3 separate regions of the Homo sapiens genome follow, and regions 2 and 3 are each linked to region 1. Evidence: fine-mapped expression QTL. A gene starts in region 1. Each other region holds a variant in brackets. All regions are shown on one strand. Distances are between the middles of the regions. Region 1 holds the start of PTP4A1 (protein tyrosine phosphatase 4A1). Region 2 overlaps EYS (eyes shut homolog). Region 3 has its middle 33 kb from the start of LGSN.

The links.
Region 2: its variant is fine-mapped to the expression of PTP4A1 in whole blood (TOPMed, PIP above 0.99).
Region 3: its variant is fine-mapped to the expression of PTP4A1 in whole blood (TOPMed, PIP above 0.99).

Annotation. Positions count from the first base shown.
Region 1 is chr6:63,566,650-63,578,072 of GRCh38, reverse strand. PTP4A1 (protein tyrosine phosphatase 4A1) reads right to left here and starts at 5,593. Exons shown (of 6, transcript NM_003463.5): 1 at 5,354-5,593; 2 at 1,088-1,637. The coding sequence starts at 1,192. It overlaps LOC124901228 (translation initiation factor IF-2-like), which reads left to right and starts at 4,505. Exons shown (of 2, transcript XM_047419610.1): 1 at 4,505-4,541; 2 at 4,643-11,423. The coding sequence starts at 4,505. The coding sequence ends at 5,388. LOC128125822 reads right to left here and starts at 5,593. Exons shown (of 2, transcript NM_001415059.2): 1 at 5,354-5,593; 2 at 1-1,637. The coding sequence starts at 5,392. The coding sequence ends at 1,542. It also overlaps a transcript of LGSN not described here. RefSeq lists enhancers at 3,662-4,397, 4,092-4,461, 4,398-5,133, 5,515-5,809, 5,134-5,869 and 1 more and silencers at 5,002-5,131, 5,432-5,851.
Region 2 is chr6:63,778,536-63,787,890 of GRCh38, reverse strand. All of the region lies in intron 39 of EYS (eyes shut homolog), which reads left to right. Among named protein-coding and RNA genes, the nearest start is that of SCAT8, 24 kb to the left of the region's middle. The variant T/C (reference allele first, on the strand shown) is at 4,714.
Region 3 is chr6:63,347,230-63,358,652 of GRCh38, reverse strand. It overlaps a transcript of LGSN not described here. Among named protein-coding and RNA genes, the nearest start is that of LGSN, 33 kb to the right of the region's middle. RefSeq lists enhancers at 5,411-5,500, 5,601-5,870, 5,941-6,050, 10,323-11,423. The variant C/T (reference allele first, on the strand shown) is at 5,419.

The DNA of each region.
Region 1 (11,423 bases):
GTAACTAAAGGCATTATTTATAACTAATCGGGTAATCTGACTTCACTCAATTATACTCACTCCTTAAACTTTACTGATTTACATTGAATGAAGTCTTAACTACAGTAAAAAAGCCCACATACCATTTAAAACTACAGGCTTCAAAATGCATTATTACTAATTACATATTACTAATATAATATACTATTATATACACTATATAGTATATATTAGTGTATATATAATATATAGTAATAAAAATTAAAGTACCATTAAAGTATTTCCCAGCCAGGCGTGGTGGCTCACCTGAGGTCAGGAGTTCGAGACCAGCCTGGCCAATATGGTGAAACTACATCTAAAAATACAAAAATTAGCTGGGCAAGGTGGCGTACGCCTGTAGTCTCAGCTACTTGGGAGGCTGAGGCAGGAGAATTGCTTGAACCCGGGAGGCAGAGGTTGCAGTGGGCTGAGATCATGCCACTGCACTCCAGCCTGGGTGACAGAACGAGACTCCATCTCAAAAAAAGGAAAAAAAAGTATTTCCATTATGTTCTGAGAGGCCTATTTGCTATTTCTTAACAACTGTAGGTATTTATAAAATAAAACATGTGCACATCCCGATATATTATTCAGCATTCAATTCCTTTCTCCTAGTAAAAAGAGGCAGGTAGAGTTTTGGCTACATAGCTACCATTAGGAAGGAACAGAATTTGTAGTTGAAAATTGGATTCTAAGCATCAGATGGGGTTCAAGAAAAACCAACTGGTTTATGGCATTAGTCATTAGGTTAAGCAGATATATAAAAAATCCATAAATGGCAACCTTTCCCATGTAAATTTCTTACAAGATAAGTAAGAGCTATACTGTTTTACTGTCCACATACCAATTCAAGCAAACTCAGGTACAATAACTATTAACTCAAGCACATGCCCTTCTCAAAATGTACAAATATACCTCTAACCTATAGAAGACATTGACATTTATTTCTGGGAACTGGAATTGTAGGTATATCATCTCATTTTTTCCAAAGTAGTTTTTATTTTGTTAGCTATAAGTCCCACTATTATATTGCAATCAATTTAAGCTACTAAAACATATCAAATCTTACCTCTATAAATTTGTTTAAGGTCGCATTGGTTGGATTGTGTGTAATAAGAAATCTCATGTTCTTGTATGTGACTTCCACAGGAGCTGGGCGGTTCATTCGAGCCATGTTAATTTAGTTAAAAAACACTCAATAGGGTTATGAAATAATTAAAAAAATTGAATACAGAAATGATGCAAAGAAACTGAAGTCTACTTCAATATACTCCACTTGAAATTCTCAGTGCTTTGAGTATGAAGTTGTAAGTAATGATAAGTGAAATGAACCTCCTAACAAGAAGCAGCAATTCTTCAATCCAGTAATACTGAGGCCAACAGAAAAGAAGTGCACTGAGGTTTACCCCATCCAGGTCAGAACTCTTGTAAAATGCTCTGTGGATTTCAATTCAACACTTCTGTGTCCAGGATAACCACTCTTATGGGGGCTTCTTGGTGGAGCAGTAATCAGTTTCTACAGTTCACTTGTCTGCATAGAGGTCGTGCTGTGCCTGGCAGTAATCTCCACTGCCCTTCAGAAACTCCATAAATGTGTGACCAAGAACACCACAGAATTGCTGTTTAAAAGAAAAAGACAGAAAGAGAGAATAAGTTATTTTCCAATTCAAAAGAAATACATTAGGGTTTTACACTATTTAAGTACACAACTATTTTTCTAAAGCAGGGCCTGAGCCGCTTCATCGACTTTTACTTGAATTGCAAAACTCAAGGGGTGAGTACAGATTAAATCAATCAGCATAAAACAAGCAGTCAGATAGATTAAACTGAAATCCATGATCTATTACCAAGATTCCTCAGAAAAAAAAACCAAACCCATTGTTACATTTTTGTGAAATTCATATATATATTCATATATATTCTATCTAGTTATATTCTCTGTATATATACTATCTATATATAATATATAATTATATGATTCTAATAATTATCCCTTTCGATAGTTGTTTTCTTTACATTGTAATTACATACACTTTATGTTGATTTTTCCAACTAACAAAAACATTTTTACACATTAATACAAACTCCAGATAACTCTGAAGTTATTAGTCTTGCATAATTTACTTAACTCATAAACTGAAACATCTAAGTTCTTTTCCAACTTTATGCTTTTATATCCTTTTCTTAGACTGATTTAAGTCCTATATTTAGAATCTCACTTTATCCTTAACAATCTGTTATCATTCCCATTAAACTGAAGACGAGGAAAATGAGTCTCTGAAAATCAACTTGTTATGTGAAATATCATAAGAATGTATGCTTATGAATCTAAAAAGGAAACAACTCTCATTTATAACTGTAAAGAAAATATTCATAATTTTAATAATGTTCTTTTGTATTTTAAAACCAAAATTTCACATATACAACTCAAAACTGAAATCCAACTCAGAGAAGGCGGACAAAGGGATGTTGAAGGTGGAAGTGGCAGGTCTCAAAAGCAAGGTAACTACTGTAACCAATAAATATAAACAAATATGAATGTATTTATATTTTCTCTAAGTTCCCCCTTAAGAACTAAACCATTTTTATGCCAATATCAAACATTAAACCAATAGTCACAGCATATTTTTAAAATATGTACATGGAAGACACTGATGTTAATAATCAGTCTTCTTCCAAATAGTTTATAAGGTACTTGTGTACTCGGGAGTAAAGAGGGCACTAAGGAAAGTATTAATAACAGGTTAACAAGAGCAGTAATTCATAGTCACTGCCTCAAGCACTTCATGTGTACTCTCATTACCAAAGTGTTTTAACAAAAGGTTCCATTAGTTTCCATGCTTAAATTTAAGCATTTGAAGTCTTAAAATTAAAATTCAAACGATCTGCTCCCATTTCCATTTTACACCTTTAAATAGTCCCATGCTAGTTATAGTTTCTAGAACTTTGCTAAATTTTGAAGAATAATTCTTATGATGATTACTGCAGAAAACATCAAGTCAAAAACCCAGTCTACTTTTCTGGTAAAACATACAACTAGCATTAACAATCATTTATCAAAAGGTCCCATAAAAAAGGTAACTTTCATTATCACAAGTTTGTTCAAACAAGCCCTCAGAGGTTACTTCACCTAGTTGGTCAGCTGGGTTAAAAAATTAAGTGTCTAAATTACAAAGCCATCACAGTTACAGTGAATACAGATTGTAGTAATCTGAAAATAATTTCATTATACTTTCACCCCAAATTCTAAATACAACCTCCGTAGAATAAAAAGTGTATTCTGACACTTTCCCAATGACATACAATGATCTTTAAAAGCTTTATAATGACTCATCACAGTATTCTAATTTCTAGGTATTACCTTTTTTTCAATTAAAAGCTAATTTGAGGCAGTATTTCACACCACTATTTCCATATTTAATAGCTAAAACTCCTGTCGGCTACAACCTAGTCTGGCCATATCCCTTCATGTAAGTAAGCACTTTCATCAGGAAGCAGAGAAAGAACTATATTAAGAATTCCCTTCCTGAAATGGTTATTTTTACTGAGTGGAGCCACCTAGTGGATGGGGGGACTCGTCTGTTAAAGCAGTGGTGGCCACCGATAGATTTCTGTTCCGCCCAAGACACTCCTCCATTCCCAATCTCCTACCCACAGGAAAAACTATCCATAATGGGGATTTTTTCCCTCCCACCTATCAGTTGCATTATAATCACAATCATATACAAGAAGGGAGAGGAGGAAAGAGTAATCTCTGTGCAGAAGCTTAAATCATTATTATACTGCAGAGTCAAGCCAATTAATGTGTGTAACTCCTTTGTCACAAACAATTCGTTGTATAGTCTGTTCCACATCTATTTAGGTCTTAGGGCACCTAAGAAAGCATGTGTAAAATGCTGCTCACTCTTGGGAATGATTTAGTTTTCTAGTTTTCAACTGACTGAGTAACAGGAAGCACTGCCTCAGGATCTAGATGTCGGGCAGGTCAACAGTTCCAATCGTAGTGTAAATAACTTAATACTCGTGGACTGGTAGGGGGCTCCGCGGACAGAAGATAAAAAACCCTCAGAATTCCGTCTCTGGTTGGCTACTGCTGCCACAAACCAACAGGAGGCAACAACATATTACACCACAGAGCTCAGGGATAGTTCTAAACAGTCCCCGATTAAAAGGCGCCATCCAGGGCCCTTCCAAAATTGGCAGGGGAAATGTATGCTGGTGCCCGGACGGGAAGTCCTTCGCGTCAGTGTAACTAACAGTAGCCCTGTCAGTTTCCAAGACGCTCCGAACCAGGCCATTTCTCGACGACTGGCCCAGAGAAAGGACAAGACTAGACTTGTTCCCATTATCACGAGCCCGAGGTGGGGCGATAAATCCGGAACAGCTCGAATTACCAGGTGGAGCCTGGGAGGAGGGCGGGGCGGACGGCCGAAGTTCTCACCTAGCAGAACCCCACTCTGGCCCGGGCAGGGGTGCAGCTCGCGGAATGCCCCAGAGGGCCGCCGCCCCGCGCACGCGGCTGTGTGCGCCCGAGCACGCCCGCTGCGCCCCCTCTCCGCGCCGCAATCACGGGTTCGCGCCGCGCCTTCAGTCAGGCGCGGGCGCCGAGGCCATTTTGTCTGAGGCTCGGGTCCCGGCCGTCGAGCACAAGAGTGTAGCTGCACCCAGTGGCTGTCCCGCGCCCACCCCGGAGCTCCGAGAAGCTCTGGAACCAGATCGTTACCACCCGTGCCTGGCTGTCCGGCCTACCCCACGCCCGCCCGGATCTGGAGGCGAACCCGCCACCGCCGCGCCCTCCCCGTATCCGGCTCCGCAGTGACACGCGCAGCCCTCGCCCCACCCCGGGCCACGTCTCCCGCTCCCAGTGCAGCCACTCTCCTCCGGCCGAACAAAGAGGCCCCGGGACGCCGCGGAGCCTGCCATGCCCGGACGGGTCGCGCCAGACCAAAGGGCCAAGGGCGGAGGCGGCGGTCACAAAGCGGCTTTTGTGCCACCCACCCGGCCCGCTGCGGAAGCCGAAACTGCCCCCGGCCGCCGCAGAAGCCGGACCGCGCCGCCCCCGTCGCTCCGGGCTCGGGAGGGACTCAAAAGCCGGTGCCTCCGGCGGCCAACCGCCACCCCGCAGCCCCGAGGGGCCCGGCATCTGCCTCCGCACAGCCGGCCGCAATCGGCCGGCCACAGGGCCATAACCCGCCCGCTCCCACCCGGGACCCACCGGAACCGCAACCCGGGGCAACCTGGAGGAGACGCCGGGCTCCGAACAAAGGCGACAGCGGGGATGGGGGGCCGGTCGTGGATTCCCAGCCCGAGAGGCGACGATGCGACGGCTACTCACAGGAATATGTTTACTCATTGAAGATTGTGGCCTAATCATACAGCCGGTCCCGAGGCGGCGGCGACACAGGCGGTGGCGGTGGCTGCAGGGCAGGAGGCGGCGGTGGTCGTGGCGGAGCGGCGGTGGCGGCGATGCAGGCGGCGGCGGGGGCACCAGACTCTACCATGCAGTGAGCGGCTCGGAGCAGAGCGCGTAGCCGAGCCGGCCCGCAGCCGAAGGAGCCAATACACGCGCCGAGGCGCCCTTGCGTCACAAGCCCTCCCCTTTATAGCCGGCGCGACGTGCAACCCTCCAGCCACCAATCGCGGCCTGGAACCGCGGGCCAGGAGCCGACAGGCGGGGGCGGAGGCCCGCCCCCTCCGGACGTCACTCCGCGGCGGCCGCCGCCGGTGTGAACCGGTTGATGAATGGCTAAGCGCCGAGTCGGAGCATCCCCGGGGCGGGGGAGGGAAGGGGCTGCCGGGAGTGCTCCGGGATGCAGGAAGCCTGAAGTTAAGAAGGGGTGGGAGCGAGAGAGATTCCGATTTATCGACTGGAAGGAATCATGCTGCAAACCACGTTTCTCATAATTAAAACGGTCCAGGAGTGCACACATGTCACATGAGGAGACTCGAAGTTTGCCTGAATCGTAAAATGCAATCCTTCTAGGGCTGGAACCGCGTCTCAGTGTCGAGCCTGCTTTCTACTGCCTTAACCACGGTCATCTTTGCCAGTGGTTTACCTTGGCACCTGGGCCCCGAGTACCTTCGTCATCAAATAATATTTATGTCGCAAGACCGCTGTACCCGGTGACTCAACACCTTGCATGCCACGGCCTTAGGCTTGGTCAAGATGAATTCTTGTCCCTGGGGGCGCTTTCAAGCGGGGAGAAACTTACCTTCGCAAAACTTAAGGCTATAGAAGATGGGGAGAGTATCTTTTGATGCAGACGAAGCCCTATGCTCCCTATATTCTTTTTTTGATCACACCTCTCTATACTACGTACGCGTGCAACTGCAGTTGGCTCAATTGTGGCATTTCGAAATCACATGCATCCTTTGTACTGCTGCTCACTTGATATGTTGTCTCAGATAATGAAAGGTTAGGAAGTGCTTAAAGAAAGCGTTTTTAGAAATTAAGAATCCTCGGTTTTGTCAAGCACTGATGTAATTCTTTGCGTCAAAGCTAAAGCTCTTCTTTATGTTCGTTTTCAGTCCTCTTTTACTGACTTCATTATTTAAGCCCCTAAGAAGTAAAGTCTTATCGCAATTCTGTGCCATACAAGGGCACCTCTGTTATTTATAATCTGAAAACCCTTTCTCCTCAGCTCTGGAGAAGGACCAAACAGGACCTTTACCTGCTTTTTAAGAACTCAGTTTTCCACTAACACTGAAGCCTTTTGTTTGTTATTTTCACCGAGTATGAGATTGGAGAGGGCTTTAGGGATCAAATTTTGTCCTCTTTCAGTGCCCTGCAACATCTTAGGATTTATTAGAACTTCTATTTAGAGACTGGTTGTATAGTTATTCAACTTTCTTAACTCTGTAAGTAAAATAAGAACTTTAAAAAAACAAAAACAAACAAAATCCTGGGCCAGACTTTCAAAGGAACAAAAACTCTTCGTCATTTGGAAGAAAATGGCTCACCTACGACACATTTTAATCCATTAAAATCAAGGAAAACTAGCACACTTGAGAAATATGTCCCTTTACAAATAAATGATTTAAAAAAGTAAAGACTTTAAAATCTTAAATTCTAAGAAAATATAGAAAGCTTAAAAATCTTGGGTGGTAGGGGCAAAGCTAAGCAGGCTGGGGAACTCATGTCGAAAAAAAGGGACAGATTTCATATATAAGAACTAAAAACTTTTATATGGCAAAAGGCTTTTGACAAATGTCAATTTCACACTGGGGGAAATATTGGTGATACTTCATGGGTAGGGTTAATATAAAAAGCTTGGCCAATGTATATAATAGTGTAGTTAAAAAGCACATATTCAGTCAGCCACTCTTACTCCACAAGTTGGTAAACACAGATAATTGGAATAGTGAAACTTTTTCATGTAATGGCATTTCAAAAAATACATTTGGTGGGACAAGATATAAACTCAGCAAATGATTAACAGAGCCAAATATGTGTTAGCCAATTTTCTTGTAGAACTTGTGATACAAGTTGTGAGCCTTGTGATCCACAGATCCTGTAATTACCACAAGCAGTGCTGACACGAAGTATCCAGTCAGCTATGCTCATCAAGTTCTAAAAGCTCTCAAATTCTCAAGTGGCCTGGGGGTCTTAGCCTCTCAGACAAGGTACCATCTTATCCTACTATGAAAGTAACATATTTAAAGGATGAAAAAATAAGGCTTTTGCTGTTGAGAGAAACGATGCATTTTATTTTATGTATTTATTTGAGATGGAGTCTTGCTCTTTTGCCCAGGTTGGAGCACAGTGGTGCAATCTTTGCTCACTGCAACCTCAGCCTCCTGGGTTCCAGCAATTCTCCTGCCTCAGCCTCCCAAGTAGCTGGGATTACAGCCACCTGCCACCACACCTGGCTAATTTGTTTGTACTTTTAGAAAACTCCATGTTGACTAGGCTAGTTTTGAACTCCTGACCTCAAGAGATCTGCCTGCCTCAGTCTCCCAAAGGAAAGGACACATTTTAAACAAGATATAAGTGTGGTCTTGCTGACCAATCCATTAAATGTTCCTGCTTGTCAGCTGCCATTGTGGTTCACTGCTATGCTGAGGGTGTCTGCTGTATTTAGTTTAATACTTTTAAGCTGCAGATTCTTGGAGAACAGTAGAACATCCCAGCATTGGTCAGGAGACTTCTGTGATTTGAGGACTCACTAACCCTTACAGACTTGCACTCAGAGCATTAGCACCTGTACTTATTTAAAGTGGGTCTCTAACAGACTTGAAAATAGTGCTTCCAGACATCAAAAAGGGAGAAAACACCTCTAAAAGCCAATGCTTACTCTAAGCTCCAGGAGAGGCTCTAAAATAGAGGATTTTCTCTCCTGCTAAACAAGATTCTCAGCTGGAAGTTACTTCTCTCAGCAAAACATGTGTCCTTAACCTCATCACGATAGGCAGGGCTTTCTATTGACAATTCAAAATATAAAAGCCAGCAGTTGGGAAATAAGACTAGAAGAATATTATAAGGAAGTTGAGCATGGTGGCATACAGGCTCATGCCTGTAATCCCAGTACTTTGGGAGACCAAGGTGGGTGGATCACCTGAGATTAGGAGTTAGGAGTTCAAGACCAGCCTGGTCAACATGGTGAAACCCATCTCTACTAAAAATACAAAAAATTAGCTGGGCATGGTGGCAGGCACCTCTAATCCCAGTTACTTGGGAGGCTGAAGAAGGAGAATCACTGGAAAGCTGGGAGGCAGAGGCTGCAGTGAGCCGAGATCATGGCACTGCACTCTAGCCTGGGAGACAGAGTGAGACTTCATTTCAAAAAAAGAATATTATAAGCGATATTTTTATGGAAGAGGAAAGACTGCAGAAGGCAAGAGTGCAGAGGAAGATTGGCAAATCTTGATGAAGAAGAACAGAGAAATCTTCACAAGAACAGCAGATCTAGTAAACATTGATTCCATTTTACCAAGTTTACAAAAGGAGTGAAGGATTCCTTGATTTTCAATCTTCTCAGATTGGTTGGGGCTACAAGGAAGTCTGATAAAAACATTTAACATAGCAAGAGTAATATCATTGCCATAATAGATTAAACGTGACAATATCAACCTAGAAAAAGACACTAGATTGCAAGGTATAATGACAGTCTAGCAAATATATGTAATAGAGGCAAATACCCCAATGGGCCATAATCTAGTAAGTGTCTGGATACTAGTGCAGAGGGTAAGTTCCCATACCCATATTTAACAAGAGTCCTAAAAATTCAAGTATGCCATGGCTGCTGTCAGCATTGTTAAAGTTTATTTCCCTCTTGCTGTTTTAGAACAGCCTATTTTATATCCAATTAATTTTCTTATATGATTATTAAAAATAAATATGTAGTATACAGGCATACCTTCATTTATTGTGCTTTGCAAATATTGTTTTTTTTTTTTAACAAAATGATGGTTTGTGACAGCTTTTTGTCGAGCAAGTCTATCAGAGCCATTTTTCCAATAGCATGTGCTCATTTCATGTCTCTGTGTTACATCTTGGTAATTCTCCCAATATTTCAAACTTTTAAATTATTATTGCATTTGTTATGGCAATTTGTGAACAGTGATCTTTGATATTGTTATTGGAATTGTTTTGGGCCACCACAAACTGTACCCATTTAAGATGGCAAACTTATTTGATAAATGTTGAATATATTCTGACTGCTCCGCTGATGGGCCAGTCCCTCAGTGAGACACAGCAATACTGAAATTAGGCCAATTAATAACCCTACAGTGGCCTCTGAGTGTTCAAGTGAAAGGAAGAGTCATTCATCTCTCACTTTAAATCAAAGCTAAAAATGATTAAGCTGAGTAAGGCAAGTTGAAAGCAGAGATAGGCCGAAAACTAGGCCTCATACCCAAAACAGTCAAGTTGTGAATGCCAAGGAAAAGCTCTTGAAGGAAGTTAAAAGTGCCACTCCAGTGAACACAGGAATGATAAGAAAGTGAAACAGCCTCATTGTTGATAAGGAGAAAGTTTTAGAGTTCTGGATAGAAAACCAGCCACAGCATTCTCTTAAGTCAAAGCCTAATTCAGAGCAAGGCCTTAACTCTCTTCATTTTTATGAAGGCTGAGAGAGGTGAGGAAGTTGTAGAAGAAAAGTCTGAAGATAGCAGAGGTGGATTCATGAGGTTTAAGAGTAGAAGCCCTCTCCCTAACATAAAAATGAAAGGTGAAGCAGTAAGTGCTGATGGAGAAGCTGCAGCAAGTTATTGAGAAGATTTAGCCAAGAACATTGATGAAGGTGGCTACACTAAATAACAGATTTTCAATGTAGACAAAACAGTCTTATACTGGAAGAAGATGCTGTCCAAGACTTTCATAGCTATAGAAGTCAATGCTTGGCTTCAAAGCTTCGAAGGACAGGCAGTTCTCTTGTTAGGGGCTGATGTGGCTGGTGACTTTAAGTTGAAGCAGATGTTCATTTACCATTCTGAAAATCCTAGGACCCTTAAAAATTATGCTAAATCTACTCTGCTGTGCTCTATAAGTGGAAGAACAAAACCTGGTTGACAGCACATCTGTTTAGCATGGCTCACTAAATATTTTAAGTCCACTGTTGAGACCTACTGATAAAACGTGATTTATTTAAAAATACTATTGCTCCTTGACAATGCACATGGTCACTGAAATGCTCTGATGGAGATGTACAAGGAGAGTAATATTGTTTTCATGCCTTCTAACACAGCATCCATTCTGCAACCCATGGATCAAGGAATAATTTTGACTTTCAGGTTTTAATATTTAACAAGTACATTTCATAAGGTTATAAATTGCTGTAGATGGTGATTCCTCTGATGGATCTAAGCAAAGTAAACCAAAAACATTCTGGAAAGGATTCTAGATGCCATTAAGAACATTCATGAGAGGAGGTAAAAGTATCAGCATGAACAGGAGTTTGAAAGAAGTTAACTCCAACTCTCATGGATGACCTTGAGGGCGTTCAAGACTTCAGTGGAGGAAATCACTACAAATATGGTGAAAATAGCAAGACAATTGGAGTTAGAAACAGAGTCTGAAGAGTTGACTAAATCGCTGCAATTTTATGATCAAACTTGAATGAATGAGGAGTTGCTTCTTATGAAGGAGAAAAGAGAGTGGTTTCTTGAGATAGAATCTACTGCTGGTGAAGATGCCGTAAGCATTGTTGAAATGATAAAGGATTTAGAATATCACATAAACTTAGCTGATAAAGCAGTGGGTGAGTTTTAAGAGGACTGATTGCAACTTTGAAAGGAGTTCTCTTGTGTGTAAAATACTATCAAACAGCACTGCCTGCTACAGAGAAATTTTTTGTGGAGTCATCAATGCAGCAAACTCCATTGTCTTATTTCAAGAAATTGCCACAGCCACCTTAACCTTCAGCAACTACCTCCCTGATCAGTCAGCTGCCATCATCACTGAGGCA
Region 2 (9,355 bases), 210 kb before region 1:
CTGGGCTCACCACAACCTCTGCCTCCTGGGTTCAAGTGATTCTCCTGCCTCAGCCTCCCTAGTAGCTGGGATTACAGGCATGCACAACCACGCCCAGCTAATTTTGCATTTTTAGGAGATGAGGTTTCTCCATGTTGGTCAGGCTGGTCTCGAACTCCCGACCTCAGGTGATCCGCCTGCCTTGGCCTCCCAAAGTGCTGGGATTACAGGCCATGCCCAGCCTCATTTACTATTTATTGACCACTTACTACATATGTACTAGATGTTTAGGATGTTTTAATGAACAAATCAAAGATTTCTGCACTTATAACTAGTTGGAGAGATAAACACTAAATGTAATTAGTTAATTATATAGTCATATAATGTGATAAGTTCAATGGGAAAAGGGAAATGGAGAGCATGATTTAAAGGAATCAGGATTATGGGTAATTGTTTATACAGGGTGCTTTTTAAAATAGGCTGAGCAGGGTAGACTTCAAAGAGTCACAGTAAAAATTGAAAGTCCATCTAACTTTGAAGTTCAAAAGGCAAGAGACAGACTGCAGTCAACCCATCCATACCACCAAGGGGTAGCCCACAGAGGCCAGAGCAAGCCAAGAGGATTAAGGACAACATTGTGCTTGGGTGAGCAATCTTATTGCCACAGTCTGTCTTCCTGTGTTCAAATAGTTCCGTGTTCAAATGAGATCAGCACACACAGAGCTGGCCCTTTCTCTTACAGAAACATTAAGATTGCACACTCCTGGAAGTATGTCAACTGCCACAGTCTTTAGTGAGTATGGGAATCTTGGGCAAGTCTTCTTGGAAATTGCCACTTATGCCACAGTCTTATAGAAAATTCAGGACCTTGAGATCCCCTAATTTTATCATTCTTCTCTTGGATCCTCTCTTAATGTCTGCCTTCCCTCCACTCTAAACTAGCATTTACTATTTATTATAAATCATGGCGTATTGTTACCAACTTACCAGGACAACCAAATTGCAACTGTACCATAAATCCATGGTTCCCAAAGCTGATCTCTACTGGTTCTGAAGAATAATATAGGATAACTTCTTAAAAACACAGATTTCTGAACCCTACCCAAGAACTATTGAATTGAAATCTTTACAGTGGGATCTAAAAATTTGCATTTTAACAAGCCTCCCAGATTTGGAAGCCACCATATATTTTTTAAATTATCTCTTTTTTTTTTTAACTTTAAGTTCTAGGATACAAGTGCAGAATGTGCAGGTTTGTTACATAGTATACATGTGTCATGGTGGTTTGCTACACTCATCAACCCATCATCTAGGTTTTAAGCCCTGCATGCATTAGGTATTTGTCCTAAGGCTCTCCCTCCCCTTGCCCCCCACCCCTTGACAGGCCCCGGTATGTGATGTTCCCCTCCCTGTGTCCGTGCATTTTCATTGTTCAACTCCCACTTATGAGTGAGAACATGAGGTGTTTCATTTTCTGTTCCTGGGTTAATTTGCTGAGAATGATGTGGAAGCCACCACATTAATTAATCATAACGAAGCAAAGCAAATGGAATTTTCTGAAAGAATTTAATAGTTGGAGTAAGGATATCACATTTGTCCTTAGAATTACAATTAAATAATGCAATAAAATATTATCTGATCTAGGCTTTTACATTTTTATAAACTCTTTATTTTTATTTTACTTTACCTTTTTTTTTTTTTTTTTTTGAGTCTCGCTGTGTCATCAAGGCTGGAGTACAGTGGTGCCATCTCAGCTCACTGCAACCTTCATCTCCAGGGCTCAATCAATCCTCCCACCTTAGCCTCTCATGTAGCTGAGCCACTAAACCCAGCTAACATATCCTTACAAAGCTGATTTATATTGTAGTAGAGTTATAAAATAAAGACATGCTTTAAATTGTAATAACAATTCATTTGGTGAAGATAGCTTTTTGGTAGATCCTAGTCCCAGGGTACTTGGTCAAAGGTCTGTTCTTATAGTGTTCTCAGTCACTCAACCAGGTCTGGCCTACTATCCATGAACTTGAGAACTGCATCATCACACCCAGTTAATTTTTGTATTTTTATTAGAGACAGGGATTTTCCAGGTTGCCCAGGATGGTCTTGAAATCCTGGGCTCAAGCCATCCGCCTGCCTCGGCCTCCCAAAGTGCTGGGATTGCAGGCTTGAGCCACCGTGCCCAGCCGATTCCTATAAACTCTTGATAAATAACTCTAATCCAAAGTTCGTGATCTAAAATATAAATCCTTACTGCTAATAAAGCACATTTGTTTTTGTTCTAAAAAATGGCTTATAATGAACCATTATTTTTTCTATGACCTTTAATGCTCATAAAGGTATTGAGACTAACCACCTTAAATAATCTACATCTGCCAAATACGCTGTGCCTTACTGTTTTATCTGCCCTAATAAGATCAGTTCTCCTCTCCTCTGCTTTCCAAAGTTGCATCTGCTACAAAGCTGCAGAGTTCTCAGAATGAGGCTCATGAATGGTGGTCTCAGACTGGGCACGGAATGAAGGAAGGAAGACAAGAAGATATGGAAGAAGGGAAAGGAGGAATAAGGGGAAGAAACAAGTAAAACTGGTTAGGCCACAAGTGAAAATAAGCTGGGTCCTTTCACTAGAAGTTCTGTTGCCTGTAGATAATCTTGCTGAGCTGTTAATTGTGCTAAAGGCAGCTATAGAAGCAGAATAACTGAAGTGAAACATCTCATCTTCACCACAAATGCCTTTTCTGAATATACTTCTTTACTTATTTCTTTTACTATTGCTACCAGTCCCTCTAATACTTGTTTGAATCCTTTGTACAGTGGTTCTCAAAATGTGGTCCCTGGGTCAGCAATATCAGCATCACTGGGAAGTTTGTTAGAGATGCAAATTGTAATTGAACCAGAAACTCAGGGAATGGGGCCCAGTAATATGTATTTTAATGAGCTCTTCAGGTGATTCTGATGCAACTGAAGTTAGAATGACAGGCTTACTGTCATCTTTGACTACTCACCCTTCCCTGATTAACTGACACATCATAACCCTATTGCCATGCTAATGAATTATACCATTTTCCTGCTCTAGAACGCAACAGACACCCTGTCAACTCTAGAATAATAACTGAATTTTTTACATGGTGATATGGTTTGGATTTGTGTTCCTGCCCAAATGTCATGTCAAATTGTGATCTCCAGTGCTGGAGGAGGGGCCAAGTGGGAGGTGTTTGGATCATGGGGGTAGATTTCCCCCTTGCTGTTCTTGTGATAGTGCGTTCTCATGAGATCTGGTTGTTTAATAGTGTGTATCACCCCCCTTCACTCTTTTCCTCCTGCTCCAGCCATGTAAGACATACCTCCTTCCTCTTCACCTTCCATCATGACTGTAAGTTTCCTGAGACCTCCCCAGCCATGGTTCCTGCATGGCCTGTGAAACCATGAGCCAATTAAATCTCTTTTCTTTATAAATTACCCAGTTTCAGGTAGTAAGTTACAGCAATGTGAGAATGGACTAACACCCCTGACATTCCAAAACCCATGTATTTTTTCTATACTTAACTCGCTTCCACTGATTTTTTAATTCAATAAAATCTATCTGTATTAGTCAGGCATCTCCAGAGAAACAGAACCAATCAGGTGTGCACAGAGAGAGAGAGAGAGAGATTTTTAATAAGGAATTGGGTCACATGATTATGGAAGCTGAGAAGTCCCAAAATCCACAGTCAGCAACCTGGAGACCCAGGATAATTGATGTGTAGCTCCAGCCTGAGTCTGAAACCCTAAGAACAAGGAGAGCAAGTGGTGTGAGTTCCAGTCTGAAAGCCATCAGGCTCAAGACCCAAGAAAAGCCAATGTTTCAGTCCAAGTACGAAGGCTGGAAAAGACCAATGTCCCAGCTCAAGTAATCAGGCAGGAAGAATTCCCTCTTTTTTGTTCCATTTAGGTCTTCAGTGATTGAATGAGGCCCACCCACATTAGGGAGGGCAATCTGCTTTACCCAGTTTATCAATTCAAGTGTTAATCTCATCCTAACACACACACACACACACAATATTTGACCAAGTATCTGGGCACCCCATGGCCAAGTCAGGTTGGCACATAAAATCAACTATCACTATATCTAGCCACTGCCTCTCTGTATGTCTTATTTTCCCTGCCTCAGGGCCCGTGCTTAAATCAGCATTCTCCACCTCTTCAAATTCCATTTGCCTGGAAAGCAAGCTCAAATCACACCTCCTCAATGAGAGCCCACTCTCTGAGCTCACTCATTGAGAGTGAGCTCTTTCTGAAGTCTTTGGAGCACCAAGTCTTTTCCCACTTAGCATTTCATACCTAATATAATTATATACCTAGAGAATGTATGTCTTAATTTAGAATTTAGTAAGCTTCTGGAGAATAGGATTTTTAGTTTTTACTGATAACAGATCTCCACAGCACCTGGAATGGTGCTTTCACATAATACATGCTTGTGACATGTTGTTACCACCAGATCTTTCCCAGACTCTCTTACAGCTATGCATGACCATGTGCCTGAGTTCTGGCCAGTGAGATGTCAGCAGGTGTAATAGTTGCTACTTCCAGGCCTTGCCTATGAAAATCTTCTGCACAGTCCTGTACTCTGTTTGCCAACTCACCTGGATGCCAACCCTAACCACCCTTTGGACTTTACATGAACAGGAAATAAGCTTCTAGTGTTACAGCAACTACTGCTCATTGATATGGAGGTTATTAAATATTTACTACTCTGAA[T/C]AGAGTGGACATGAGATAGATTCAGATTTATTAACAACCCTGTAAATGAGAGTTATTCTCATCTAAAAATAGCCAACACGGTCAGTACTTTCGGTTTCTTGTGAGTTCAATTTTTTTCTCTCTCCTTTTTTTAATCATATGAGATTCTTCAAAGAAGAGCCCATATGGGAAAATGTAATCAGTTTACTGCAATAATTTAGAAACCCAGGATAAAAAAAAAAAAAGCTATACTGCAGTTTAAAAAAAAAAGCTATTACTTATTTGGTACCTAGTCAGTCAAATGGTTGGCTAAATGCCAACAAGAGAAAGCAGGAAAGATCTAAAATTGACACCCTAACAACACAATTAAAAGAACTAGAGAAGCAAGAGCAAACACATTCAAACACTAGCAGAAGGCAATAAATAACTAAGATCAGAGCAGAACTGAAGGAGATAGAGACACAAAAACCCCTTCAAAAAATCAATGAATCCAGAAGCTGGTTTTTTGAAAAGATCAACAAAATGGATAGACTGCTAGCAAGACTAATAAAGAAGAAAAGAGAGAAGAATCAAATAGATGCAATAAAAAATGATGAAGGCGATATCACCACCGATCCCACAGAAATACCAACTACCATCAGCGAATACTATAAACACCTCTACACAAATAAACTAGAAAAGTTAGAAGAAATGGATAAATTCCTGGACACATATATCCTCCCAAGACTAAAGCAGGAAGAAGTTGAATCCCTGAATAGACCAATAACAGGCTCTGAAATTGAGGCAATAATTAATAGCCTACCAACCCAAAAAAGTCCAGGACCAGACAGATTCACAGCTGAATTCCACCAGAGGTACAAAGAGGAGCTGGCACCATTCCTTCTGAAACTATTCCAATCAATAGAAAAAGAGGGAATCTTCCCTAATTCATTTTATGAGGGCAGCATCATCCTGATACCAAAGCCTGGCAGAGAAACAACACAAAAAGAGAATTTTAGACCAATATCCTTGATAAACATCAATGCAAAAATCCTCAATAAAATACTGGCAAACTGAATCCAGCAGCACATCAAAAAGCTTATCCACCATGATCAAGTTGGCTTCATCCCTGGGATGCAAGGCTAGTTCAACATACACAAATCAATAAATGTAATCCATCATATAAACAGAACCACAAACAAAAACCACATGGTTATCTCAATAGATGCAGAAAAGGCTTTTAACAAAATTCAACAGCTCTTCATGATAAAAACTCTCAATAAACTAGGTATTGATGGGATGTATCTCAAAATAATAAGAGCTATTTATGACAAACCCACAGCCAATATCATACTGAATGGGCAAAAACTGAAAGGATCCCCTTTGAAAACCGGCACAAGATAGGGATGCCCTCTCTCACCACTCCCATTCAACATACTGTTGGAAGTTCTGGCTAGGGCAATCAGGCAGGAGGAAGAAAGAAAGGGAATTCAATAAGGAAAAGAGGAAGTAAGATTGTCCCTGTTTGCAGATGACATGATTGTATATTTAGAAAACCCCATTGTCTCAGCCCAAAATCTCCTTAAGCTGATAAGCAACTTCAGCAAAGTCTCAGGATACAAAATTAATGTGCAAAAATCACAAGCATTCCTATACACCAATAACAGACAAACAGAGAGCCAAATCATGAGTGAACTCCCATTCACAATTGCTTCAAAGAGAGTAAAATACCTAGGAATCCAACTTACAAGGGATGTGAAGGACCTCTTCAAGGAGAACTACAAACCACTGCTCAATGAAATAAAAGAGGACACAAACAAATGGAAGAACATTCCATGCTCATGGACAGGAAGAATCAATATCATGAAAATGGCCATACTGCCCAAGGTAATTTATAGATTTAATGTCATCCCCATCAAGCTACCAATGACTTTCTTCACAAAATTGGAAAAAACTACTTTAAAGTTCATATGGAACCAAAAAAGAGCCCATATTGCCCAGACAATCCTAAGCAAAAAGGACAAACCTGGAGGCATCACGCTACGTGACTTCAAACTATACTACAAGGCTACAGTAACCAAAACAGCATGGTACTGCTACCAAAACAGAGATATAGACCAATGGAAAAGAACAGAGCCTTCAGAAATAATAGCACACATCTACAACCATCTGATCTTTGACAAATCTGATAAAAACAAGAAATTGGGAAAGGATTCCCTACTTAATAAATGGTTCTGGGAAAACTGGCTAGTCATATGTAGAAAGCTGAAACTGGATTCCTTCCTTACACCTTATACAAAAATTAATTCAAGATGGATTGAAGACTTAAATGTTAGACCTAAAACCATAAAAACCCTAGAAGAAAATCTAGGCAATACCATTCAGGACATAGGCATAGGCAAGGACTTCATGTCTAAAACATCAAAAGCAATGGCAACAAAAGCCAAAATTGACAAATGGGATCTAATTAAACTAAAGAGCTTCTGCACAGCAAAAGAAACTACCATCAGAGTGAACAGGCAACCTACAGAATGGGAGAAAATTTTTGCAATCTACCCATCTGACAAAAGGCTAATATCCAGAATCTACAAAAAACTTAAACAAATTTACAAGAAAAAATCAAACAACCCTATCAAAAACTGGGCAAAGGATATGAACAGACACTTCTCAAAAGAAGACATTTATGCAACCAACAGACACATGAAAAAATGCTCATCATCAGTGGCCATCAGAGAAATGCAAATCAAAACCACAATGAGATACCATCTCACATCAGTTAGAATGCCGATCATTAAAAAATCAGGAAACAACAGGTGCTGGAGAGGATGTGGAGAAATAGGAACACTTTTACACTGTTGGCGGTACTGTAAACTAGTTCAACCATTGTGGAAGACAGTGAGTGGATTCCTCAAGGATCTAGAACTAGAAATACCATTTGACCCAGCGATCCCATTACTGGGCATATACCTAAAGGATTATAAAACATGCTGCTATAAAGACACATGCACACGTATGTTTATTGCAGCACTATTCACAATAGCAAAGACTTGGAACCAACCCAAATGCCCATCAATGATAGACTGGATTAAGAAAATGTGGCACATATACACCATGGAATACTATGCAGCCATAAAAAAGGATGAGTTCATGTCCTTTGTAGGGACATGGATGAAGCTGTAAACCATCATTCTGAGCATACTATCCCAAGGACAGAAAACCAAACACTGCATGTTCTCACTCATAGGTGGGAATTGAACAATGAGAACACTTGGACACAGGGTGGGGAACATCACACACTGGGGCCTGTCATGGGGTCGGGGGAGTGCGGAGGGATAGCATCAGGAGGAATACCTAATGTAAATGACGAGTTAATGGGTGCAGCACACCAACATGGCACATGTATACAGTATAACAAACCTGCAAGGTATGCACATGTACCCTAGAACTTAAAGTATAACAATGACAAAAAAAAGAAAAAGAAAGCTTTTTATGCCTCCAAAAAAAAGTTTTGAAAATAAAATTCAATCTTGCCTTTATTTTATCATTTTAAAGACCTTATTTCTGGTTGATGTTCCCATTTATTTGAAAGAACTTTGCAAATAAACTATAAGTAACTGCTAAAGGAGCTGAGTAAAATTACAATACATTTCAGGATTTCAAACACTTTCATTTCAAATTTTTCACTGAACTGTCCTTTTTATTTACATATATTTATCCAATCTTGGGGTAGAAAAGTTATTTTTGTTTGTTTGGTTTTTTTTTTTTTGAAACAGACTCTCGCTCTGTTGCCCAGGCTGGAGTGCAGTGGCGCGATCTCAGCTCACTTCAAGCTCTGCCTCTGGAGTTCACACAATTCTCCTGCCTCAGCCTCCCGAGTAGCTGGGACTACAGGCACCCGCCACCACGCCCGGCTAATTGTATTTTTAATAGAGATGGGGTTTCACCATGTTAGCCAGGATGGTCTCAATCTCCTGACCTCGTGATCCACCCGCCTCGGCCTCCCAAAGTGCTGGGATTACAGGCATGAGCCACCGTTCCCGGCCGAGAAGTTCTTTCTAAAGATGTATAGAAAGGCAAAATCTCTGAAAGAAAAAAGAGAAAAATGTGACAACATAAACATAAACTTCTTTACCTAAAAAAAAAAAAAACTACCATAGCAAAATTGAGTGGTAAATATTAAACTGGAGAAAGTTTATTTACCGTATATTACAAATAGCTAATGTCCTCATTATATAAGGAGACTCTCTTTATATACTATAAATACAAATTATAATATAAATTATGAATGACCAATAAATTTGTTAAAAGATTTTTGATACCCAACCAAAAACGGTAAAATAGTATTTTATTAGCTATCGCATGTAAAAATGAAATGGAATGGTAATCCCAGGCATGGTAGTGCCTGTGAAGAAAGGGGTATCCCAGTCTCCTGAGTCCAGTTGTGATCTATGGGGGACACTTAGGCATACTTCAAAGCATCTATATCTTTTCCCCTAGTAATTCTACTTCTAGAAATATGTACTAAAAATAATTTAAATGGACAAAGATATACACATAAGATATTCATTACAATTTTATTTCTAATAGCAAAAAGTATAAATAAGTCAATGGTATAATAATTATAGGTTTATTAAATATATTTTGATATAAGAAAATATGCCATCACTTAAAAATAGTTAATGCT
Region 3 (11,423 bases), 220 kb after region 1:
TTATACACCAATAACAGACAAACAGAAAGCCAAATCATGAGTGAACTCCCATTCACAATTGCTTCAAAGAGAATAAAATACCTAGGAATCCAACTTACAAGGGATGTGAAGGACCTCTTCAAGGAGAACTACAAACCACTGCTCAATGACATAAAAGAGGATACAAACAAATGGAAGAACATTCCATGCTCATGGGTAGGAAGAATCAATATTGTGAAAATGGCCATACTGCCCAAGGTAATTTATAGATTCAATGCCATCCCCATCAAGCTACCAATGACTTTCTTCACAGAATTGGAAAAACTACTTTAAAGTTCATATGGAACCAAAAAAGAGCCCACATTGCCAAGACAATCCTAAGCCAAAAGAACAAAGCTGGAGGCATCATGCTACCTGACTTCAAACTATACTACAAGGCTACAGTAACCAAAACAGCATGGTACTGGTAGCAAAACATAGATATGGACCAATGGAACAGAACAGAGCCCTCAGAAATAATGCCACATATCTACAACTATCTGATCTTTGACGAACCTGACAAAAACAAGCAATGGGGAAAGGATTCCCTATTTAATAAATGGTGCTGGGAGAACTGGCTAGCCATATGTAGAAAGCTGAAACTGGATCCCTTCCTTACACCTTATACAAAAATTAATTCAAGATGGATTAAAGACTTAAATGTTAGACCTAAAACCATAAAAACCCTAGAAGAAAACCTAGGCATTACCATTCAGGACATAGGCATGGGCAAGGACTTCATGTCTAAAACACCAAAAGCAATGGCAACAAAAGCCAAAATTAACAAATGGGATCTAATTAAACTAAAGAGCTTCTGCACAGCAAAAGAAACTACCATCAGAGTGAACAGGCAACCTACAGTATGGGAGAAAATTTTCGCAACCTACTTATCTGACAAAGGGCTAATATCCAGAATCTACAATGAACTCAAACAAATTTACAAGAAAAAAACAAACAACCCCATCAACAAGTGGGCAAAGGATATGAATAGACACTTCTCAAAAGAAGACATTTATGCAGCCAAAAGACACATGAAAAAATGTTCATCATCAGTGGCCATCAGAGAAATGCAAATAAAAACCACAATGAGATACCATCTCACACTAGTTAGAATGGCGATCATTAAAAAGTCAGGAAACAACAGGTGCTGGAGAGGATGTGGAGAAATAGGAACACTTTACACTGTTGGTGGGACTGTAAACTACTTCGAACATTGTGGAAGTCAGTGTGGCAATTCTTCAGGGATCTAGAACTAGAAATACCATTTGACCCAGCCATCCCATTACTGGGTATACACCCAAAGGATTATAAATCATGCTGCTATAAAGACACATGCACACATATGTTCACTGAGGCAGTATTCACAATAGCAAAGTCTTGGAACCAGCCCAAATGTCCAACAATGATAGAGTGGATTAAGAAAATGTGGCACATATACACCATGGAATACTATGCAGCCATAAAAAAATGATGAGTTCATGTCCTTTGCAGGGATATGGATGAAGCTGGAAACCAGCATTCTCAGCAAACTATCGCAAGGACAAAAAACCAAACACCGCATGTTCTCACTCATAGGTGGGAATTGAACAATGAGAACACATGGACACGGGAAGGGGAACATCACACACCGGGGCCTGTTGTGGGGTGGGGGGAGGGGGGAGGGATGGCATTAGGAGATATAACTAATGTTAAATGACGAGTTAATGGGTGCAGCATACCAACATGGCACATGTATATATATGTAACAAACCTGCACGTTGTGTACATGTACCCTAAAACTTAAAGTATAAAAAAAAATTGGGGGTTGTGATTTTAACTTACATTTCTTTGTAACCATAAAGATGCTTTAAAGATTGGAAGACAATTGGTCATGTTGCAGTTTTGGCACTTAACATCCTATATTTTCAGGAGAAGATATCTCTTCTCCTAGGTATATGCATGGCACAATTCCTCAGTGTCTGTTCACATCTTACCTTCTCTATCCAAATGTCACATCTTTGACTACCTTACCTAAACATGCCTCATCTCTTGACTGTTACTTTTATTTCTTTTACTCTGCTTTATTTTTATTTTTCTTATTTTTTAACTTTTTGAGACAGAGTTTTGCTCTTGTCGCCCAGGGTGGAGTGCAGTGGCATGATATCAGCTCACTGCAACCTCTGCCTCTCAGGTTCAAGCGATTCTCCCACCTCAGCCTCCCGAGTAGCTGGGATCACAGGCACGAGCCACCACACCCAGCTAATTTTTGTATTTTTTTAGTAGAGATGGGGTTTCATCATGTTGTTCAGGCTGGTCTCGAACTCCTGACTTCACGTGATCTTCCTGCCTTAGCCTCCCAAAGTGCTGGGATTATAGGCATGAGCCACTGTGCCTGGCCTGCTTTATTATTATTTTTTTAAATGTGGACTATGAGTTGAATTGTTTTTCCCCAAAACGATAACTTGAAGTCCTAACCTTCAGGATCTCAGAATGTGATCTTATTTTTAAATACAGTGTTTGCAGATGTAGTCAAGATGAGATTATTAGGGTGGGCCCTAGTGCAATATAACCGGTGTCCTTATAAAAAGGGGAAATTTGGACATATATATATAGATGTGCGTAGAAGGAAGAATATGTGAACAGATACAGGAATAACACCATGTGAAGACAGAGTACTGGCGAGGTCCAGTGGCTCACGCCTGTAATACCAGCACATTGGAAGGTCAAGGTGGGTGGGTCACCTGAGGTCAGGAGTTCACAACCAGCATGAGTAACATGGTGAAACCCCGTCTCCACTAAATACAAAAAATATTAGCCAGGCATGGTGGCACATGTTGTAATCCAAGCTACTTGGAAGGCTGAGACAGGAGAATTGCTTGTACCTGGGAGGCAGAGGTTGTGGTGAGCCAAGATTGCACCATTGCACAACAGCCTGTGCATCAAGAGTGAAACTCCGTCTCAAAACAAAACAAAAAGACAGAGTACTGGAGTGATGCATCTACAAGCCAAGGAATGCCAAAGATTGCCAGCAAACGACTAGAAGCGAGAGAAAGGCCAGGAAAGATTTTCCTCCAGGTTTCAGAGACAGCATGGCTCTGTGGACACTTTGATTGAACTTCCAGCCATAAGAATTAATGACACAATAAATTTCTGTTGTTTTAAGTTACCCAGTTTACAGTACTTGGTTATGGCAGCCCAAAGAAATGAATACACCACCTGGCATAGGATGTACTCTTTTTGTTGTTCAATTTCTGCCTGCCTCTACTAGACTAATTACCATGAGGAAAGAGACAAAGTACATTTTCTTCACTTTTGTGCCCCAAGTACTTAGAACAGTGCCCAGCACTCAATACATATTTGCCAAGAGAATGTAGGGATATTTTATTTTTCATTTTTTTTTAAATTGATACATAATATTTGTATGTATTTGTAGGGTACATGTGATATTTTGTTATATGCATAGAATGTGTAACCATCAAGTCAGGGTATTTAGGATACACATCACCTTTTCCATTTATCATTTTTATGTGTTGGGAACATTTCAAGTCCTCTGTGTAGCTATTTTGAACTATACAATACATTGTTGTTTACTGTAGTCACCCTTCTTTGCTATGGAACTTTAGAAACTATTCTTTCTTTTTCCTCCCCTACACCCACACCCACACCCATACCCTTCCTAGTCGTTAGTAATTGTCATTTTACTCTGTACATCCAAGAGATCAACTTTTTTTTTTTCTCCCATATATGAGTGAGAACATGCAATATTTGTTTTTCTGGGTCTGGATTATTTCACTTAACATAATGATCTCCACTTCCATCAATGTTGCTGCAAATGGTATTATCTCATTCTTTTTTATGGCTAAATAGTATTCCATTGTGTATATGTATCATATTTTCTTTAATCATCTGTTGATGAACACAGGTTGATTCTCTGTCTTTGCTGTTGTGAATAGTGCTGGAATAAATATGTGAGCGCAGATGTCTCTTCAACATACTGATTCCTTTCCTTTGGATAATTGCCCAGTAGTGATAGATCATATGGTATTTCTATTTTTAGTTTTTTTGAGAAATCGCCATACTGCTTCCATAGTGGCTGTACTAATTTACATTCCCATCAACAGTGTACAAGAGTTACCTTTTCTTTGCATCCTCACCAGCATCTGTTATATTTTTGTCTTTTTAATAATAACTATTCTAACTGGGGTAAGATGGTATCTCATTTTGGTTTTAATTTACATTTCCCTGATGATTAGTGACGTTGAACATTTTTTCATGTATTTGCTGGCCATTTGTGTGTCTTCGTCCAAGAAATGTTATTCAGACCTCTTGCCCACTTTTTAAAGGGATTATTTATTTATTTTTTTTGCTGTTTGAGTTCCTTATGTATTTTGGATATCAGTCCCTTGTCAGACAAGCAGTTTGCAAATATTTTCTCCCATTCAGCAGGCTGTGTTTTCATGATATTGATGGTTTTCTTTGTTGTGCAGAAGCTTTTTAGTTTAATATGGTACCATTGTCTATTTTTATTTTTGTTACCTGTACTTTTGAGGTCTTAGCCATAAAGTCTTTGCCTAGACCAATGCCCTAAAGTGTTTTCTCTAGGTTTTTTCCCTAGTAGTTTTATAGTTTGAGGTCTCATGTTTAAGTCTAATCCGTTTTGAGTTGATTTTTATATGTAGTGAGAGATAGGGGTCTAGTTTCATTCTTCTGTGTATAAATATCCAGTATTCTTAGCACCATTTATTGAAGACGGTGTCCCTTTTCCCAATGTATATTCTTGGCAACTTTATAAAAAAAATCAGTTGCCTTATATGTAGACTTATTTCCAGGTTCTCTATTCTGTTTCATTGGTCTATGTGTCAGTTTTTGTATCACTGTAATGATGCTTTGGTTACTATAACCTTGTAATATATTTTGAAGTCAGGTGGTGTGATGTCTGCAGCTTTGTTCTTTTTGCTGAGGACTGCTTTGGCTACTCAGGCTCTTTTTTGGTTTCATGCAAATTTTGAGATTGTTTTTTCAATTTCTGTGAAAAACATTATTTTTTCTTTTTTTTTTTTTTTTTTTGCTACAAACTGCTTCTTTCTAAAAGAGAAATCTAAGTCCAGGTATTAATGAAGTAGGAAAAATTTCAATAATTATAAGAGTATAGTAGAAAACTTCACCTTACGTTCTGTTATGGTTCCCTACAAAATACTCTGTGATAGAAGCTATTTCTCTGGTAGGGAGAGTCTTAAACATCTGTGAGCATATCCAGGAAGGCACTGTTGCCAGGGATGGGAACATTTTCTGCACAGGAGACCCTGTTAGGTACTAAGGATCAGGTTTTCCTGTGTGTCTCAGGATGTTGCCTATTGCCTCTTGCCTGTTGGGTCTGCAACAGAAATCTGCAATTTCTGGCCAGACTGCTCAATTTCCTTC[C/T]CCTTTGGTGTTACTGACCTCTGCTGTTAAAAAGCAGCGCCTCTGCTTGCCTCTAAAGCTACTCTCTGGTTTCCAACCATTAAAACATTCAATAACCAATCTCATCATTCTGGAAAACAAATATCCTGGAGCTCAAAGGCTACAGAGACTTTTCCAATTATTTCCTAAAATGGCTTTTTAGATTTGAAAGTTCTTCTGTGAGAACCAGGGTCACGTGTCTGTCTTCAGCGTTACAGAGAAAGACAGATGGAGGTTGTTGCGCTCACAAGAGAAAAGGAAACTTAAGGCAGCTTCCCCTTTTCTTGACCACCGGATGTGTCTTCTGCAACTTCTGTGAACTCCAGTAATTGAGGTCATATTGTGGCATTAAAAAAAAATCCAGCTGTTTGCATGGTTCCCTTAATCCTTACTCTTATCTAATTCAACCACCTAATCTGGCCAAGAAATGTGAGGGGAACAAAATTCTATCCCTTTGTTTGAGAGACAGATGAACAGTCTCTAACATAACCCACAAATAAAACTGTGTGTCTGTGTGTGTGTGTGTGTGTGTGTCTGTGTGTGTGTGAGAGAGAGAGAGAGGAAGAGAGAGAGAGAGAGACAGACTGGAGTGCGGTGGTGTGATCATGGCTCAGTGAAGCCTTGATGTCCCAGGTTCAAGCAATCTTCCCGCCTCAGCCTCTTAAGTAGCTGGGACCACAGGCATGTACCACCACACCTGGTGAATTTTCGTATTTTTTGTAGAGATGGAGACTCTCTATATTGCCAGAGCTGGTCCCGAAATTCTTGGTTCAAGCAATCCTGCCTCAGCCTCCCAAAGTGCTGGGATTCTAGGCGTTAGTCACTACACCTGGCCAAACAAAACATTTTTAAGATTATTGATCTTAGTGGAGTCCTTGTGATAAGGCATAAGCATGACATTCCAAAATAGAAAGAATACAAAACAATGGATTTGCGCATAAATATCTCTACTAACATGTGAGTTTTGGAAAATTCCCTATTTCATGAATCATTAGCTTGTAAGTTTTGTTTTGATGTTATACAAGCATTTCTAAAACAAGTCTGTGTAGATGTTGCCACCTACTGTTTGCCTAGAAACATCCTTCATATAATTCATTTCATGTAACAATAGTCTTTTTTCTAATTGCATTTATTTTCCAGGAAGGTCATTTCTGTCTCAACCATTTCTTGTTTTAAAATTATTTGTCTATTTGTTACTTACTCTTAAGTACCATATCTACGAGGTCATTACAAGAAATTCTTTCTTTATACATTGGAAAATCCTGAGGCAATGACACAATTTTCTTTAAATGTTCTCTGATATATTGAAACAGTAAATCAGTCTCAGGTTTAAAAAGACTATACAGTATATGTCATTGAAACATCATTTAAAAAATTATTAGTCTCCATGTAAATCAAAGTGGTCAAGATCATTAGATTGCTGTTAGTTTTATTTTGACATTCATATTTAAGATATTTAGGCTGAGTGTGGAGGCTCATATCTGTAATCTTAGCCCTTTGGGAGGCCGAGGTGGGTGGTTCACTTGAGGCTAGGAATTCGAGACCAGAGTGGCCAACATAGGAAGACCCCGTCTCTACTAAAAATACAAAAAATTAGCCTGGCATGGTGGCGGGCACCTGTAATCCCAGCTGCTTGAAGCTGAGGCACAAGAATCACTTGAACCTGGGAGGCAGAGGTTGCAGTGAGCTGAAATCGCACCACTACACTCCAGCCTAGGTGGCAGAGTGAGACTCTGTCTCTGTTTCTGTCTCTCTTTCTCTGTCTCTCTCTCTCTCTCTCTTCCTCTCTCTCTCTCTCTCACACACACAGACACACACAGACACACATACACACACACACACAGAGATATTTATAAAGCAAATATCTGCTTTTTTTCCTTCCTTTTGTCTTAATCTTTTCAGGCTGCTATTAGAAAGCACCATAAACTGGGTGGCAGATAAATATCAGAAATGTATTTCTCACAGTTCTGAAGTTTGAGAAGTCCCAGAACAAGACACTGGTAGCTTTGGTGTCTGGTGAGGGTCTGCTTCCTCACAGACAGGGTTTTCTCACAGTAACCTCACATGGTAGAAATGGGAAGGGATCTTTCTGGGGTCTCTTTTATAAAGACACTAATCCCATTTGTGAGGGTTCCATTCTGATAACCTAATCGCCTCTCAAAGGACCCACCTCTTATGTTAACCTTGGGGGTTAACATTTCCACATATGAATTTGGGTGGAAGAGACACAAATATTCAGAATATAGCACTGTAAATAGTTTTGGATGTTAGTGATTGAATGGCAAATTCTTTTTTATTAGGATAAAAAACCAATTGTTTTACTTACCAATTGGTCGTCTGAACTCGTTTTTGTTTGTTTGTTTTTTTTTTTTTAGATGGCTCTGTGGCCCAGGCTGGAGTGAAGTGGCACCATCTCAGCTCACCGTAACCTCTGCCCCACAGGTTCAAGTGATTCTCTTGCCTCAGCCTCCTGAATAGCTGAGATTACAGGTGTGCGCTGCCATGTCCAGCTAATTTTTGTATTTTTAGTAGAGAGAGCGTTTCACCATGTTGGCCAGGCTGGTCTGGAACTTCTGACCTCAGGTGATCCACCCACCTTGGCCTCCCAAAGTGCTGGGATTATAGGCGTGAGCCACCACCCCTGGCCTGAACTGTTTACTTTGTAGTTAGTTTTATGATGTGCCTGTGGCACTATTTTCAGTATGCTGTTTATTAAAACTGGAAATAAAGTAAAAAATTTTAAATCTTCACAACCAGGTTAATTTGAATGCACTGAGATAATTTATGGTTTGCAGACAAATAACTATGACTAGATCCAGTAATAATTATAATTACAAATCTGTAAAATATTTTCCAGTTTGTGAAGTCCTTTGTATATTTTAATAAATTTGGTCCTACTAACAACCCTGTGAAATAATTAATATAGTAATTGCTTTCATATTATAACCAAAGAAAGAATGAAAGAAATCAAGGTAATAATTGAATAGAACACAGCTAGAATAACTCTATAAATCCAGTTTTCTTAACTAAAAAGCTTACTCACTTTTACCATTCCTCATGAGTTAATTATTAGGTTGGTGCAAAAGTATTTGCGGTTTTTGCTAATTACTTCTGCACCAACCTTAATAATTTACATGATAGGTACTGAACTCTTTTTCAACTTTTCCTTGTTGAATGAATAGTTTTAAAATGCTTTCAAATAATCAAACATTCTTCTAAATCTTTGGGTAGGTCTCTAATAACTGAAATGGAACTATATTCATCTTCTGTGAAGCTGGCCTGGATAAACCAGCTTATCCCTAAATGCCACCAGAATGCGTTGAGAAGTGGATTGTTCCCAGTCTCCGTAGAAGGACTCAGCCTACCCAACACCTTGATTTCAGTCTTATGATAACTTGAGCACAGAACTCAATCACGTCGTTAGTACATCTCATCTACAGAAGCTGTGCTATCATAAATTTGTGTTATTTTAAGCCCTTTTTATTGTAAGACTCTGGTTCCTGTTTCCTTGCTGGTTGTTGGCCAAGGGCACTTTCAGCTTCCAGAGGCCATCTGCATTCTTTGCCATGTGGTCCTCTCCATCTTCAAAGCCCGTGGTGGAAAAACTCTCCCTTGTCGAATTGCAATCATAGTTTGAATCTCTCCAACTTCCCTGTTGCTGACCTCTAAACACAGATTAAAGGGTTTGTGATTAGGTCAGACTTTCTTAGAATGTTTCTCAACCTTAACTGATTTGAGGCCATAGCCACATCACAAATCTTTTCACAGCAACACCTAGATTAATGTTTGATTGAATACCTAGGAGAAGGTGTTTTTGCACCAAGGGTTGGGAATTTAGGGGCCTTTTTAGAATTCTACCAACCATGTTTCTCATCAGCTACAAATATTTCCTAATTTAGCCCCCAGTCTCCAGTCTCTGCCTTAATACTCTCACAATTTACATTACAGAGTGGCTTCTTAATGAATCATTCCAAAGCACAGTTCTGATTAAGTTTATTATCTTACTTAAGTCAATAACAACAAAACAACCAAAAGTTTGAGGGCAGCCTATGGCATGTAAGAAGCTCTTTGAAAATCAAGGTCTAAAGGACTCCTGTTTCTCTTCCTTTCTTCATGCATCATTAAATTGAGTATTCACCTTGTTTTTCTGTGCACAGTAAGCTCAGTGCTTTGACTTCTGCCCCCTTTTCCTTATCTTCAACTTTACAGGAACAATTCTCGATTGCTTGAAGGCTGCATTCCAATGCTAACTCTTCCAAAGAACTTTGCATTAACTTGTTCCCCTTTGAAAGCCTTTACTACGTAGTTTTAAAAATCTATACTTCTGGCCAGGTGTGGTGGCTCATGCCTGTAATCTCAGTGCTTTAGGAAGGCGAGGCAGGAGGATTGCTTCAGGCCAAGATTTCGAGACCAGCCCGGGCAACACAGCAAGACCCCACCTCTATTTTAAAAAAGCAAAAAAAAAAAAAAAAAAAGTAAAAATCTTCATTTCTAGTGTAGTTAGTATCCTACTTTGGGTTAAGATACTAAATAATGCTCCATGACTCCTACCAAACACAGATTACTGTAGGCCAGATGTGCAATAAGATGTTGTCTCTCTTCAACATCTACTAGTGCCTTGTAGAGATGATATGTTCCAAAATATTTGTTGAGCCGTTAACTAAAAAATCAAAATAGAAACTAGAATGCCATGCGCACCAAGAGCTCGTAGACCTGCATTGTGAATGCTTAATTACATTTCCATATATTTTTTTTTTTCTTTTGAGACAGAGTCTAACTCTGTCGCCCAGGCTGGAGTGCAGTGGTGTGATCTCGGCTCACTGAAACCTCCGCCTCCTGGATTCAAGCAATTCTCCTTCCTCAGCCTCCCGAGTAGCTGGGATTACAGGCATGCGCCACAGCTCCCAGCTAATTTTTGTGTTTTTAGTAAAGACGGGGTTTTGCCATGTTGACCAGGCTGGTCTCGAACTCCTGACCTCAGGTGATCTGCCCATTTCTGCCTCCCAGTCCATACTTTTATATTAGTCTGTTCTTTCTTTTGTGGCTGCTAGTTTTCAAGGTCATTGTCTCCTGAGCTGCTGTATTTACGTTAGACTATATTCTTCAGCTCTTGGCTAATATTGAATGACTAGCTTATTTATGCTTTCTTTTGTTATAAATCAGTGGTTTTATTTGTTTTTTTCTTACTTGGAGAAAGGAGTTTCTCCTCCAATTTTAAGAAAATTTTCAAGAGCTAGAAGCAGACTTGATCTTATATCTTATTTTCTTATTCACACAATTAACCTTTTTCTAATATTAGGAATATTTCCCTACAAGTCATTCCTGACTAATGGACTCTGCTGTATGAGTCATATATGACTTAGCAAGCATTTTGGATTTTTAAATAAGTTACCGCTTATTTAAGCAGGCTGCAGAAACATTAGTCATTGTGAGATTCAGCTTACATGTTTTCACTTAGTGACTAATTGAGTATAAGAATGGAACAGATATTTACGTGGTAATTTTCCAAATTTTCAAAAGACTTTGGCATCAGTTATCTTATTTCATGAAATGTGTCACTGTAAGATAAGCAGTTCCTTATCTTAGAGACCTCTCTAGCCTTTTAAGCATACTGGAAAAAGCCATCTTGGAAAACAAATGAATGAATGAAAGAATGAATGAGTGAATGAACTGATGGAATAATGATGGATTAGAAAAGACACTGAAGCAGGAAAGTCATAGACCTTGAAATTATATGTCTGAACAGTAAATTAGACCTTATAACTTAACTGAAGAGCACAAAGAAGACCTAAATCAATAGTAAACCATATTATTATAACCCTCCAAATTGTAAAAATGTCAATTTCCCCCAAATATTTAGTTAATGCAAATTCAAAGTACTTTGGAGTTCTTTTTTTTGTTTTAAAAAAGACTGGTTTTAAAATTAATCAGTAAGGAAAAATACATAAAACTAAGAAATTTTGAAAAGAAATAATGAAGTAAGATTT